Regions from separate parts of the Homo sapiens genome. Here regions 1 and 3 are each linked to region 2. The links come from fine-mapping of genetic effects on gene expression. A gene starts in region 2. Each other region holds a variant in brackets. All regions are shown on one strand. Distances are from middle to middle. Region 1 has its middle 4.6 kb from the start of ZNF774. Region 2 holds the start of CRTC3 (CREB regulated transcription coactivator 3). Region 3 overlaps CRTC3 (CREB regulated transcription coactivator 3).

Evidence for each region. PIP is the estimated chance that this variant, and not a neighbour inherited with it, causes the effect. A credible set is the group of variants that fine-mapping cannot tell apart.
Region 1: its variant is the best candidate, but not a certain one, in a credible set for the expression of CRTC3 in unexposed skin (GTEx, PIP 0.85).
Region 3: its variant is the best candidate, but not a certain one, in a credible set for the expression of CRTC3 in tibial nerve (GTEx, PIP 0.88).

Annotation. Positions count from the first base shown.
Region 1 is chr15:90,345,557-90,349,795 of GRCh38, forward strand. It overlaps the pseudogene GABARAPL3. Among named protein-coding and RNA genes, the nearest start is that of ZNF774, 4.6 kb to the right of the region's middle. The variant T/C (reference allele first, on the strand shown) is at 2,694.
Region 2 is chr15:90,527,527-90,531,765 of GRCh38, forward strand. It overlaps CRTC3 (CREB regulated transcription coactivator 3), which reads left to right and starts at 2,397. Exons shown (of 15, transcript NM_022769.5): 1 at 2,397-2,677. The coding sequence starts at 2,546. RefSeq lists silencers at 1,851-1,900, 2,001-2,750, 2,771-2,950 and an enhancer at 3,341-3,500.
Region 3 is chr15:90,579,375-90,583,613 of GRCh38, forward strand. The region is part of intron 2 of CRTC3 (CREB regulated transcription coactivator 3); the gene reads left to right. Among named protein-coding and RNA genes, the nearest start is that of CRTC3, 52 kb to the left of the region's middle. RefSeq lists an enhancer at 3,951-4,239. The variant C/T (reference allele first, on the strand shown) is at 2,228.

The DNA.
Region 1 (4,239 bases), 180 kb before region 2:
CCTCACCCAGGGTGGATGGTAGCATCCACTCAGCTGAGGGCCCAGATAGTGCAAAAGGGCAGAGGAAAGGCGAATTTTCTCTCTCTCTCTTCTGAGCTGGGACACCCTTCTCCTGATGTTAGACATCAGAACTCCAGGTTCTTCAGCCTTCAGACTTCAGGACTTGCACCAGCAGCCCCTCAAGTTCTTGGGCCTTTGAACTTAAACTGACTCACACTACTGGCTTCCCTGGTTCTCTATATCTATATATCCTATTGATTCTTTCTCTCTGGAGAACCCAGACTAATACACTCACTGTGATCCTTGCCTCCAAGTATTCATACCTTTGTGTAGTCCCCTCCCACACTGTACCAGGGTTGGTCTGTGTGACCAAAGGAGTATGGCAGAAATGATGGTCTATCACTTCCAAGGTTAGATTGCAGCTTCTGCTTCTTTCTCTCAATCACTCACCCTGGGGAAGCCAGCTGACACGTTGTGAGGAGAAGCTACACGTGAGGAAACAGTCACATGAGGGAGCTTGGGAGCAAGCTGATCATCCAGCCCCAGTCAATCCTACAGATAACTGTAGTCCCAGCCAGTGTCTAGACTGCAACCTTGTGAGAGACCTTCAATTAGAGATACTCACCTAGGCTGTTCCAGATTCCTAATCAACAGAAATAAAATAATTTTTTTTGAGACAGGGTTTCACTCTGTCTTCCAGGCCAGAGTGCAGTGGTGCCATCCTGGCTCACTGCAGCCTCAATCTCCCCAGGCTCAAGTGATCCTCTTACCTCAGCTTCCCAGGTAGCTGAGACTACACGTACGCATCACCAAACCCAGCTGATTTTTTTATTTTTAGTAGAGACGAGGCCTTGCCATGTTGCCCAGGCTGGTCTTGAACTCCTGGGCTCAAGCAATCCTCCTGCCTCAGCTTCCCAAAGTGCTGGGATTACAGGCATAAGCCACTGCACCTGGCAAATGTTTTGTTTTGTTTTTTAAGGTAAGCAATTATTTCATTTCCTTGGTGAAGGGGTGGCCTGCCCCTCCACACCTGTGGGTATTTCTAGTCGGGTGGGACAAGAGACTGAGAAAACAAATAAGACACAGAGACAAAGTATAGAGAAACAACAGTGGGCCCAGGGGACCGGCACTCAACACACCAAGGACCTGCACTGGCACCGGCCTCTGAGTTCCCTCAGTTTTTATTGATTATTATTTTCATTATTTCAGCAAAAAGGAATGTAGTAGGAGAGCAGGGTGATAATAAGGAGAAGGTCAGCAAAAAACATGTGAGCAAAGGAATCTATGTCATAATTAAGTTCAAGGGAATGTACTATGACTGGACGTGCACGTAAGCCAGATTTATGTTTCTCTCCACCCAAACATCTCAGCGGAGTAAAGAATAACAAGGCAGCATTACTGCAAACATATCTCGCCTCCCACCATAGGGCGGTTTTTCTCCTATCTCAGAATTGAACAAATGTACAATCGGGTTTTATACCGAGACATTCAGTTCCCAGGGGCAGACAGGAGACAGTGGCCTTCCTCTATCTCAACTGCAAGAGGCTTTCCTCTTTTACTAATCCACCTCAGCACAGACCCTTTACGGGTGTCGGGCTGGGGGACAGTCAGGTCTTTCTCATCCCACGAGGCCATATTTCAGACTATCACACGGGGAGAAAACTTGGACAATACCCCGCTTTCAAGGGCAGAGGTCCCTGCAGCTTTCCACAGTACATTGTGCCCATGGCTTATTGAGACTAGAGAATGGCGATGACTTTCACCAAGTATACTGCTTGTAAACATTTTGTTAACAAGGCACGTCCTGCACAGCCCTGGATCACTTAAACCTTGATTTTATACAACACATGTTTTTGTGAGCTCCAAGTTGGGTCACAGTGGTTGGGTCAAAGTGGCTGGGGCAAAGCTACAAATTAACAACATCTCAGCAAAGCAATTGTTTAAAGTACAGGTCTTTTTCAAAATGGAGTCTCTTATGTCTTTCCTTTCTACATAGACACAGTAACAGTCTGATCTCTCTTTTCCCTTCACTTGGCCTGACAGCATTGACTTCATTACACAAGAACTTGCAGCTGACAGAACTGACACACAGATTTCCCCCAAGAGGAAGAACCCTTTTCATTTGCAGAGATGAATTGAAATGTCATGTCTGAGTGCAATTCCTGCTCCCCACTCCCACCCCACAAAATCCTATAAGTGATAATAAATCAATAAAATCCCCATGATTTACTAAAAGTCATCCCTGCAAACCTTTCTAACTAGCAGCTGCAGTGGATAACCAAGAAGGGAAGCAGCTGGCCATCACATAGCATTCCTGTGAGTGTGAGAATGAAGGGACAGCAGCATGGGAGCGAGAATCCTGAATGAGTGAGAGGTATAGATAATCTACCTCACTTCATACCTGCCCCTTCCCTACATAAGACATCTCTGTCCTGATACATGGAAAATACTAGAGGAGATGGTAGAAGTGGTTTTAGTCTGCAATTGGAAATGCCTGAAGCTTATTAAATTCCAAGGTAGGGGTGAGATGAGGAGCACCAGAGAGAAAGAGCAGGTTAGACAGAGATGCTCAACTCACTCTGTCAATTCCAGTTTAATGCTATTTAACAACAAAATTATCTTCTTAATCATAACCACCCTCATGCCTAACCCCTATTTTCCAAAGATAAGAGATCCCTGTCTAAATTTCTGGG[T/C]TGGTGTCTACTGCCGCCCCTGGGGTGGTACTGTGATGTTTGTGAGTGAGATTGCAACTGGGATGGGAGAAAAGAAGTGTGGGATACGGAAGATCGGGGGCCACGATGCATCAATTACAGTGGGTCTCTTTTCGTCCCCAGGTATGGCCCACTACCACAAGTCCCCTTTCCCTACCTGTCTTGTGCAACTGTCAAAAACAGAATCTCTGCCCAAAGAGAAGGGAGCACAGGGAGTTGCTGCTGGACTGCCATCATCTCTGACCCCAACTTGTCCACCTCCTGACCGACCTTTCTATGAAACTGCACAAAAATTAAATCTCAGGAATGCCATAAAATTACATCATCCCCATTCCTCTATCAAAGCCAATCCAACAGCTCTGTCCTGACATGCTTTCTCCCTGGGCCAAGGAAGCAACAAAAAATATCAGTTGAGCATGTGAAAATGCGTTGACGGTGTGTGCGGTGTAAAGTTTCTATATGTCTTCACCTTCTGTCTCCTCACGGTGGGAGCCGCCCTCTCTTTCCCCAAGTCACACACACACCCCTCCCCTACCCCTAAGTCCAGGTGCTTCCATCTGCTGGGCTTCCAACCACTCATTTCCCATAGACACTCTCATTACTGTAGGCCACATACAGAAAATCATCTTCCTCATGACTGTCCTCATATAGTTGGCCCATGGTAGCACTAGTGGGAGGGATAGTGTTGTTGACAAAGAAGAATAAGGCGTCCTCAGGTCTCAGGTGGATTCTCTTCCGGATTAAAAGGTAGAACTGGCCATCGGTAAGGTCGGAGGGCACTAGGTACTTCCTCCTGTCCAGATCAGGCACCCTTGCTTTTGGAGCCTTCTCTACAATCAAGGGGACCCTGTCCGGATATTTCTTCCGGATCTTTTCTCCTTCCTTTTTCCGATACTCAAAGGGATGGACCTCCTTGTACTGGAACTTCATGGTGAATCACAGGGCTTCCGTGATCCCCGCGCAGGGCCTGCCTCCTTCGCCGCTGACCGCTGGCCACGTCCCGCTCCCTCCGCCGACGTGTGCTTAGAATAGCTGCAGAAATGTCCGCTTCCGGGTCAACAGCACTGGTCCAAGTGTGCGGGAGGGCAGAAGGTGGGGTGGGAGGGGGACCTCGGGTGCGCCTGCCTGGAGGTAGAGGAGAGCCAGGTGGAGAAATACCGGCGGCTTTTCCAAACAGCTGGGAGCACAAAAACCAAATATTTGGTTTTTTAAACCAATAAATTTTGGGGTAATTTGTTACACAGCAATAGATAATGATAGACTCTCTCTTTAAAAAAATCAGTTCTGGCAGGGTGCGATGGCTCACGCCTGTAGTTCCAGCACTATGGGAGGCCAAGGCGGGTGGATCACCTGAGGTCAGGAGTTCGAGACCAGCCTGGCCAACATGGTGACACCCCCGTCTCTACTAAAGATACAAAAAATTAGCCGGGCGTGGTGGTGCACGCCTGTAATCCTAGCTACTTGGGAGGCTGAGGCAGGAGAATCGCTTGAAGCCAGGAGGCAGAGGTTGCAGTGAGCTGTGATGGTG
Region 2 (4,239 bases):
TTCCTGATTTCAAAAGAGGCAGTGTCTCCTTTGGTGGCTCAGTATTGCAGCATAGCTCTCAAAGTCATTCCTCAAAGTTCAACCTGGAGTCGGTTGCTTCAGCCCTCCAAACAAGTCTGGAAGTCATTTTATACCCTGTAATATATTCTTTTGTACTTAAACCATCTAGAATGGTTCTGTTCTCTGAAACTTGACCCAAACAATGTAACAGAAAAGCAGAAATAAAATGTAAAGAAAAATGCTAGGCGCGGTGGCTCACGCCTGCAATCCCAGCATTTTGGGAAGCCGAGACAGGTGGATCACCTGTGATCAGCAGTTTGAGACCAGCCTGACCAACATGGTGAAACCTCGTCTCTACAAAAAATACAAAAAATTAGCCTGCGTGGTGGCGTGTACCTGTAATCCCAGCTACTCAGGAGGCTGAGGCAGGAGAATAGCTTGAACCCAGGAGGCAGAGATTGCAGTGAGCCGAGATTGCACCACTGCACTCCAGCCTGGGCGACAGAGCGCGACTCTGTCTTAAAAAAAAAAAAAAAAACTAGCCGGGCATGGTGGCGCAAGCCTGTAATCCCAGTTACTCGGGAGGCTGAGGCACAAGAATCACTTGAACTCAAGAGGCAGAGTTTGCAGTGAGCTGAGATCAGGCCACTGCACTCCAGCCTGGGTAACAGAGCAAGACTCCGTCTCAAAAACAAACCAACAACAAAAAAAAAGCATGGTAAATAACACAAAATACAACAGAAAAAAAAATCCAATTATAATTAATAAAAATAGCTAAATTCTAGCTAACAGAGATATATTTTCAGAATACATTTTCTAAAAAGTCCAGTTATAGGCTATGTCTGAGAGACAGGTGAAAAACATAATGGAATATTATCATATAAATGAATTGACACAAATATATCTCGAAAACATAATGGAGAATGAAAAAAGATGCAAAATGATTATTCAGTATGGTGTCATTTTTGTAAAGTTTAAAAACAAAATTAGGTATTCCATATAGCATTGCTGGATCTCTACATCATATGTAATAAAAGTATAAAAACACAAACTGGAATGATATGTACCAACTTGAGCACGGTGACTATCTGTGGGGCGGAAGAAGAAATGAGAGTGGGGCCGTCGTTATGACTAATTTTGTATGTCTTTAATAAATCCCAAGTACATGCAGCAAAATGTATTGATGTCTGTTTAATCTTGATAGTGGGGGGCGTGGGTAGTATTAATATTATTTTCCGTACTCTTCCGTAGGCCTCTAATATTTCCCTCTTTACAGAACACTGACACACGCTCAGGGCTCCCCGGGACATCTTTGTGCACATCAACATTTATGCTGAGAGTAGCTTCTGGACTCCAAAGAGGAAACTCCCCGGGCACTGTGGCCCACGCCTGTTATCCCAGCACTTTGGGAGGCTGAGGTGGGCAGATCGCTTGAGCCCAGGCGTTCGAGACCAGCCTGGGCAAAATAGCGAGACCCACCCCCGCCCCCCATTGCTACAAAAACATTTACAAACTAGCCGGGCGTGGTGACCCCCGCCTGTGGTCCCAGCTGGTCGGGAGGCTGAGGTGGGAGGATCTTTTGAGCCCGGGAGGTCAAGGCCGCGGTGAGTCGAGATCGCACCACTACACTCCAGACCGGGCGACAGAGAAAGACATCCATTCACTCCCCCAAAAGAAGGGGAAATTCGCTGAGGCTGAGCGCTGGTTTCCCAAGGTGGGGCTGGCACCTGCTGAAGCTGCCACAGGAGTGGAGAGGCCGTAGGGAGACTTGGAAAGAACCTGGAAAGGGGGCCGGGGCTATGGAGCCAAGGCTGCAGCAGGGCTGGATGGTGTTTGTAGTTTGTGCAGAATAGGAGGCAGTTTTTAAAGCCGAGATACAGCTCTGGTTGACTGGAGCGGGGAGGGGTGGGTGTGAGAGGTCAGGAAACCAGCGGCTGGAGGCCGGGGGCCTGGAGCGGCAGGGCTGGCGGGCAGACGTTAGGCCCCAGGCAAAATGGGCGCACCCCCTGCGGGGGCCCGAGGTGACCTGCTCGAGGTCCGGTCGCCCAGGTTCCACCTGGAGAAGAAAATCTTCGTAATTTGGCTGGGGGAGGGGGGATGCGGGCACAGGCTGTGTTCTCCACGTCGCGTAGACGCAGAGGCCATCCCTGGGTCGGAGAGTCTCCGTGGAGTGGCACCCCAGCGTTCCCCGTACGCCGGGGCCACTTTGTCGGGCTGACGGGGGTCCCTCCAGGTGGCCGCCGGCGGCGGGTCCCGAGCCAGACCGGGAAGCGGGGAGCAGCCCTCAGCCCGCGAGCGTGGGGCCGGGGCAGACTGGAGGCCGGGCGGGCCCCGCCGAGGGTGGGGCGGGGCCGGGCGCACGGGGGCGGACCTCGGCGCGCTCCCGGCCGCTCGCTGGCTCCGGGGCCGCGGCGGCTCCTCTGCCGGGTCGCGCCGGACGACTGGCTTCGGGCGGCGGCCCCGGCGGCCTGTGGACGGACGGGTGGGCCGAGGTACAGGCCCCACGGCCGCCGTCTCCCGCTTCTGCCCGCGCAGAGTCCGCGCCATGGCCGCCTCGCCGGGCTCGGGCAGCGCCAACCCGCGGAAGTTCAGTGAGAAGATCGCGCTGCACACGCAGAGACAGGCCGAGGAGACGCGGGCCTTCGAGCAGCTCATGACCGACCTCACCCTGTCGCGGGTGAGGGCCCGGGCCGGCGCGGGCGGGGGCGGCCACGGCCGCGGGCGGGACCCGCGCGGCGGGTGAGAGGTTGCGGGGCCAAGGCGATGGCGGGGCCGGGCGGGGGCCGCGCCCGGGAACCGGCGGCTGGGAGGGGGACCGGAGCGGCCGCGGCCTCGGCGTTTCCCCGCCTGGCGACACCCGCTAGCCGTTCGCGATCCCGGGCTGAGGTGGGAGGGTCGCCCGGCCCCGTGTGCGGGAAGATGGGCAGGGGTGAAGCCCGTGGAGGCGGGCGGCCGTGCGAGGGCGGCCTGAGGGGGAGGAGGACGAGGAGCCCCGAGAGGAAATCGCAAACAGCTCGGAGGCCGGCCGGGTGGCGCGGCGCGGCTTCTGGTCGCTCCGAACATCCCCCACCATCGAGCCCTGCTGTTCTGCCGGCGTGGAAGGCCGCGGGCACCCCAGGGTCCCACGCGCTCGTGGGGGGAGCTCTGTGCACAAGTCCATCCAGGGCCCGGCCCTGGGGTGGCTCGGGTTGTTGGAACCACGACGGGATTCCGTGTCGAGTGTGAGGCTCTGCTCCTTTTACTCCTTGGAGGTGCTTTATCGGGTCCAGTTTACTTTGTTCGGCCCGGGATATTTAGTGAGAACTGACAAGCGTCGCTGGTGACTGGAGAGGGACCTGGAGGAATGAGTAAGGCGCGAGCCGGGACAAACACCTGGAGAGGTTAGGTAACCGCTGAGTGAGGCAGTGGAGGATGGAGAGCCAACCGGAGTGTCCGCGCAGGGTTGCAGAGAAGGGGGGTCAGCAGGAGTGGGGCTGGCCTTGAGGATCCTGAATGCTGACCTTGGAGGACCATCGGGAGGATGGGGGAGGATCTGCAGATTCTGGGGGACTGAGGCGGGGGAGACAGTTTGAAGGAGAGCTGAGAGCAGAGTTGCAAACCAGCTGAGTTGCAGACACATTATTTTTTGGCCAGCGCAGTGTTTGGGAAAAATTATTGAATCTGTTGCCAGAATTTTTAAATTGGAAGACTTCCACACAAAATCCAAATTTCCGTATTATTTATTTATTATTATTTATATATGTTAAAAATTGGGAGACCTGGTAACACTAATTCTGAATTCCTACATGACAGCTACCGACCTGCTGGAGCTGGGTGATGATGAAAGGGAGCTGAGCTGAGCTCCCTTTCAAATGGAGTAAGAACTCTAGTTTGCCACCGTCCACTCTCTGTCACAGTCCCCCAAGGGGAGATTAGGTGACAGTTGCCATTTATACTCATGATGGTGTTTTCTTTCAGTGAAGTTAAGGAAAAAGTGAAATATTTCCTGTACTTACATTTCTGTTCACATTGAGAAAAAATATATATATAGAGAGAAAGAAGCTGAAGATTTCAAGAAAATGTTTTCTTATACCCTATCAGCTTCACTCATTTTTTACCTGCCTGGCATCCACTGGCATTTACATCTGTGACCTTGGTTAGATTCAGAGATGAACTCGATAAGCTCAGAGCACGTTGAAAAGAATGGGTGGGTGAAAGCTGAGGATTAGTGTTGGGGCCTGTGTTGTTATGTGTTTTTAA
Region 3 (4,239 bases), 52 kb after region 2:
GTCCTGGTTCTTGGGTCAAGGAAGAGGACCATGGCCTGGAACATCCTGGCCCTATCCACTATAGCTTGACCGAGTGGGCTCTAAGGCTGGTTTATAGGGAAGGAAAGAGGAAATGGGGTAGTAATTATTGTGTCATAGGCAAAAGCCTCACACTGGCTGTCCCCTTCCCCTGGGAAAAAATTCTTTAGCATTTCTCTGTAAATTTCATTGTGATTTTAGAGCATGTGTCTGAATGATTACATGGAGTAAACGTATTTCACTTTTTTTTTTTTTTTTTTTTTTTTTGAGACAGAGCCTTGTTCTGTTACCCAGGCTGGAGTGCAATGGCACAATCTTGGCTCACTGCAACCTCTGCCTCCTGGGTTTAAGCAATTCTCCTACATCAGCCTCCCCAGTAGCTGGGAGCACAGGCACCCGCCACCATGCCCAGCTAATTTTTGTATTTTCAGTAGAGACAGGGTTTTACCATGTTTGCCAGGCTGGTCTTGAACTCCTGACCTCAGGTGATCCACCCGCCTCGGCCTCCCAAAGTGCTGGGATTACAGGCATGAGCCACCTGCCCAGACACGTATTTTACTTTTAATCTCTAGTTTTATATTACATGCTGATTGCACATCCCCACTCAGGAACATCAGAAGAAATACAAAAAGAGGAAATATTTCAAAACTTTGAAATCCCACAAAAATAATCACATTCACTAATAAATATTTCTCCTTATTTATTTTTTAGGGTACCAGGTAAGGAGACTCTCCAGTTTAGTTAGGACTATGCCTAATCTGAGTTCCCATAAATCCTCAAATGAACTATATATGTTATTCTTCTGGAGACTGAGGAAGCTGGTTAATCACTGTTCCCTTGTCTGGGTTCTCAAAGGTTCAGCACTGAAGCCGGGAGCCAGGAGAGGATAGCATTATGACCTTTACTCCTCAGTAACTCCTAAGGCTCACAGAGTGGTTAGTTTTCCCTCCCCTGTCTGTAGGCAAAAGTGGGGACTTGCAGATAGGAAGAATAGGCTTCCTTAGTGTCAGTCCCGCTGGTTTTTCTTCTTCTTCTTTTTTTTTTTTTTCCTGAGACGAGTCTTGCTCGCTCTGTCACCCAGACTGGAGTGCAGTGGCGTGATCTTGGCTCACTGCACCTCTGCCTCCTGGGTTCAAGCGATTCTCCTGCCTTAGATTCCAGAGTAGTTGGGATTACAGGCACGTGCATGACCACACCCAGCTAATTTTTATATTTTTAGTAGAGATGGGGTTCGTCATCTGGCCAGGCTGGTCTCAAACTCCTGACCCCAGGTGATCCACCCGTCTCAGCCTCCCAAAGTGCTGTGATTATAGGCGTGAGCCACTGCACCCGGCCCACTGGTTTTTCTGTTTGTTTGACAAAAGGAATGCCAGACCAACTCAGTCTCCAAACAAGCGCCCAGATCCAGTTATGGCTTTAACTGAGATTAAATGGAGAATCTGGTTTCAGGGACCAGTTCTTCCATTTTTGGTAGCTTGGTTCGTTATGGAGACTAAAGTTCTTACCATGATGAATTAAAAAAAAAAATTTATTTTTGTATTTTTCTGCTGTTTAAACCATGATGAATTTTTAGCAACCTCTCATCTGGGCAGATTCTCCCAAGAGATAGTGAATGCTTAGGAACACTTTACAGCTCAGCCTAAGGGAGAACATATCAGAAGCATGGCTGGATGAGAAAGGAGTGGCCTGCCTGGGAAAGTACTCCGTTCCCATCTTCAGAGGGGTCTGGTGGCGGCTAGATGGCCTTTGGTGAGGATGCTGTCTGGTTGCATTGGCTGGCCCGGAAGATCATTCCAAACTCTGTGGCTTATGAGTCCAGACAGAACAGGACAAGGACACTGTGTGTGTCTTTTCATGAGCTAGTGGCCAGATGAGGAAAAGTACCCTATGCTCTTTTAAATAAAAAACAGGATGTAAGTTTTTTTAAAAATTCAATATGCTTTATTTAGAATTACCATGTGCTTTATCTAACTAAATATTCCAGAGCATTTTATTCTTTCCAGACATGTTTTCTCTTATACTTTCCTAGTTCCTTTGTGACATCGTATGCTTATTTTGTCCTTTAAAGTTATCAACAGTGTGAAAAAAAGTTGTTTTGTTGGCTGGCTGTATGGTAGAAAACACAGCCTTCATCTCTTTTTTTGGCATATATGTAGAAGTTATTGAGTTAAAACTGAAAAGGCACCTTTAATTTATGACAGTATCATAA[C/T]TTTAATTAAAAAATCAAACTTGTTATTTGGAAATGTAAAATCTTCCCCAAAGTAGAATAAAGAACCCCCATAGACTCATCACCAGATTCAATATTTTTCAACATTTTGCCACTCTTGTTTCATCTGTCCCCTCCCCTTTGTTTTTTCTCTTTTAATTCCAAATTACAATCTCTTCTAAACTCAGTGAAGTGTCCTACCAAGTTGAATCACAGCGGTGGATCTGGTGTGATTCAGAATGCAGTGGGGGTGAAAGGAGGGAGTCGGCAGGCTGACAGGTGCCTGTCTTTTACATATATTTCCTACGGCAGGAAGAGGTTGGTGTGGGATGAACAGAGGCTCAGGCACTTTGTCTCCTTTCCTGCTTGGCCTGAAGTGCCTACCTGACCCTTGTGGCCTCCAAGGGTGCCTTTGGCCAGTTGCCTTACCAGCCACTAGGCCGGACTCCTGCCACTGCTCAAGTCTTAGTTGATCAAAAGCCAGTTCTTCCCTTCTGCAGTTCCTTTCTATCACCATAAGAAGCAAATCAGCTTCCTCTGGAGGAGATAAATGGGCAAACCTGATTTACCCAGAACATATTTCTCTAGTCATTGTCTTATTAGCATTAAAGTTAAAAGGAGAACTACACTCAACGGAAGGCCTCCCTCACCACCCAAAGATATCACACCAGGTGGGGAGGTGGGGATGGGAACAGGCAGTTTAAAACTTCTACTTCTGTGGAGGCTTGGGTGGCGCTCTGTGGAAAGACAGTAAAGTGCCTTTAGAGGCTTGGGTCTGCATTCACCCTGCTATGCCATCCCTGAGAACTTGAAGCTGAAATTCTTCATTTTATCGTGGAAATTTGTAGCTGTACAGAAAAGTAGGAGTAGAATAAGAAGCTCCCATATAGCCCTCACCAGTTTTTAATAACGATCAACACTTTGCATTTAAACTTTTTGATTATGCAGCCTAGTAGTAAAAAGAGTTTTATATCCCCAATTTGGGTATGTTCTTTGTTTTTTAAATTATGTACATATAACACTGTATTGTTAATATTAAGTATACAAAAAAATAGAAAGCTAAGTGGAAACAGAACTTCTAATGTTTTCCCCATACCCTATGCCATCCTGTAAATCCCCTGGGGGTACACATTCCTCTTTGGAGCCAAATCATTTAGAAACATTATGTAATTCAGCAAACACGTGTTGGAGCCCACTGTGTGGCTGACGCTGTGCAAATGCTGGAGGGAAGATGCTGGGGGAGGTCTCACTGCTTACAGCCTGCTCCATCAGGGTCAGGGAATGAACATGATCCATCTTCTCCAGGTGAGAAGCTCTGCCTGAGACATAGACCTTATTCTCTGCCTTTTCTTGAGCAGGATCCCCCAGCATGAACTCTGGGCGTGTTTTATGCATTGTCGTTATTTCTTCTTCTTTTTTTTTAGAGATGGGGTCTCATTATGTTGCCCAGGCTGGCCTCCTATTCTTGAGCTCAAGCGATCCTCCCACCTCGGCCTCCCAAAGTGCTGGGATTACACGTGTGAGCCACCACCACACCCAGCCATTATTTCTTATTTTGAGAAATTATTTTGCCTGGCCCTCTGTGATCATTTTGATTGGTCTGATTTTGACTTTACCTGCTAAAAACAAAACAACCCCAAAACTGTTTTATCTCTATCATTTTCTGGAGTCACCTTTTAACTTAGTTTATCTGTTAACTTTACTTCCCTTTTATCTTTCATTTAAAAATACAGACTAGGAAGGGGCAACACAAGGGCCACAGACATGGTGATAGGCCAGGTCCTAAATCAGCAGGTTGGGTGCTGGTGCCTTCTCTGGTCTGTTCTGCTCTTCATCTCTTCTTTTCATGCCTCACAGCAAGACTTATTTGGTCCTTTGGAGAAGATTGGATCCCCAGATCAGCTGGTCAAAAAAGGCATAGCCTCCAGGTTAAAAACAAACAAAAAACCCATCTAGGTGGTTCAAGGGCTCTGAAAGTCTAATCACTTCTGCGAGACTGGAATAGACTAGCCCCA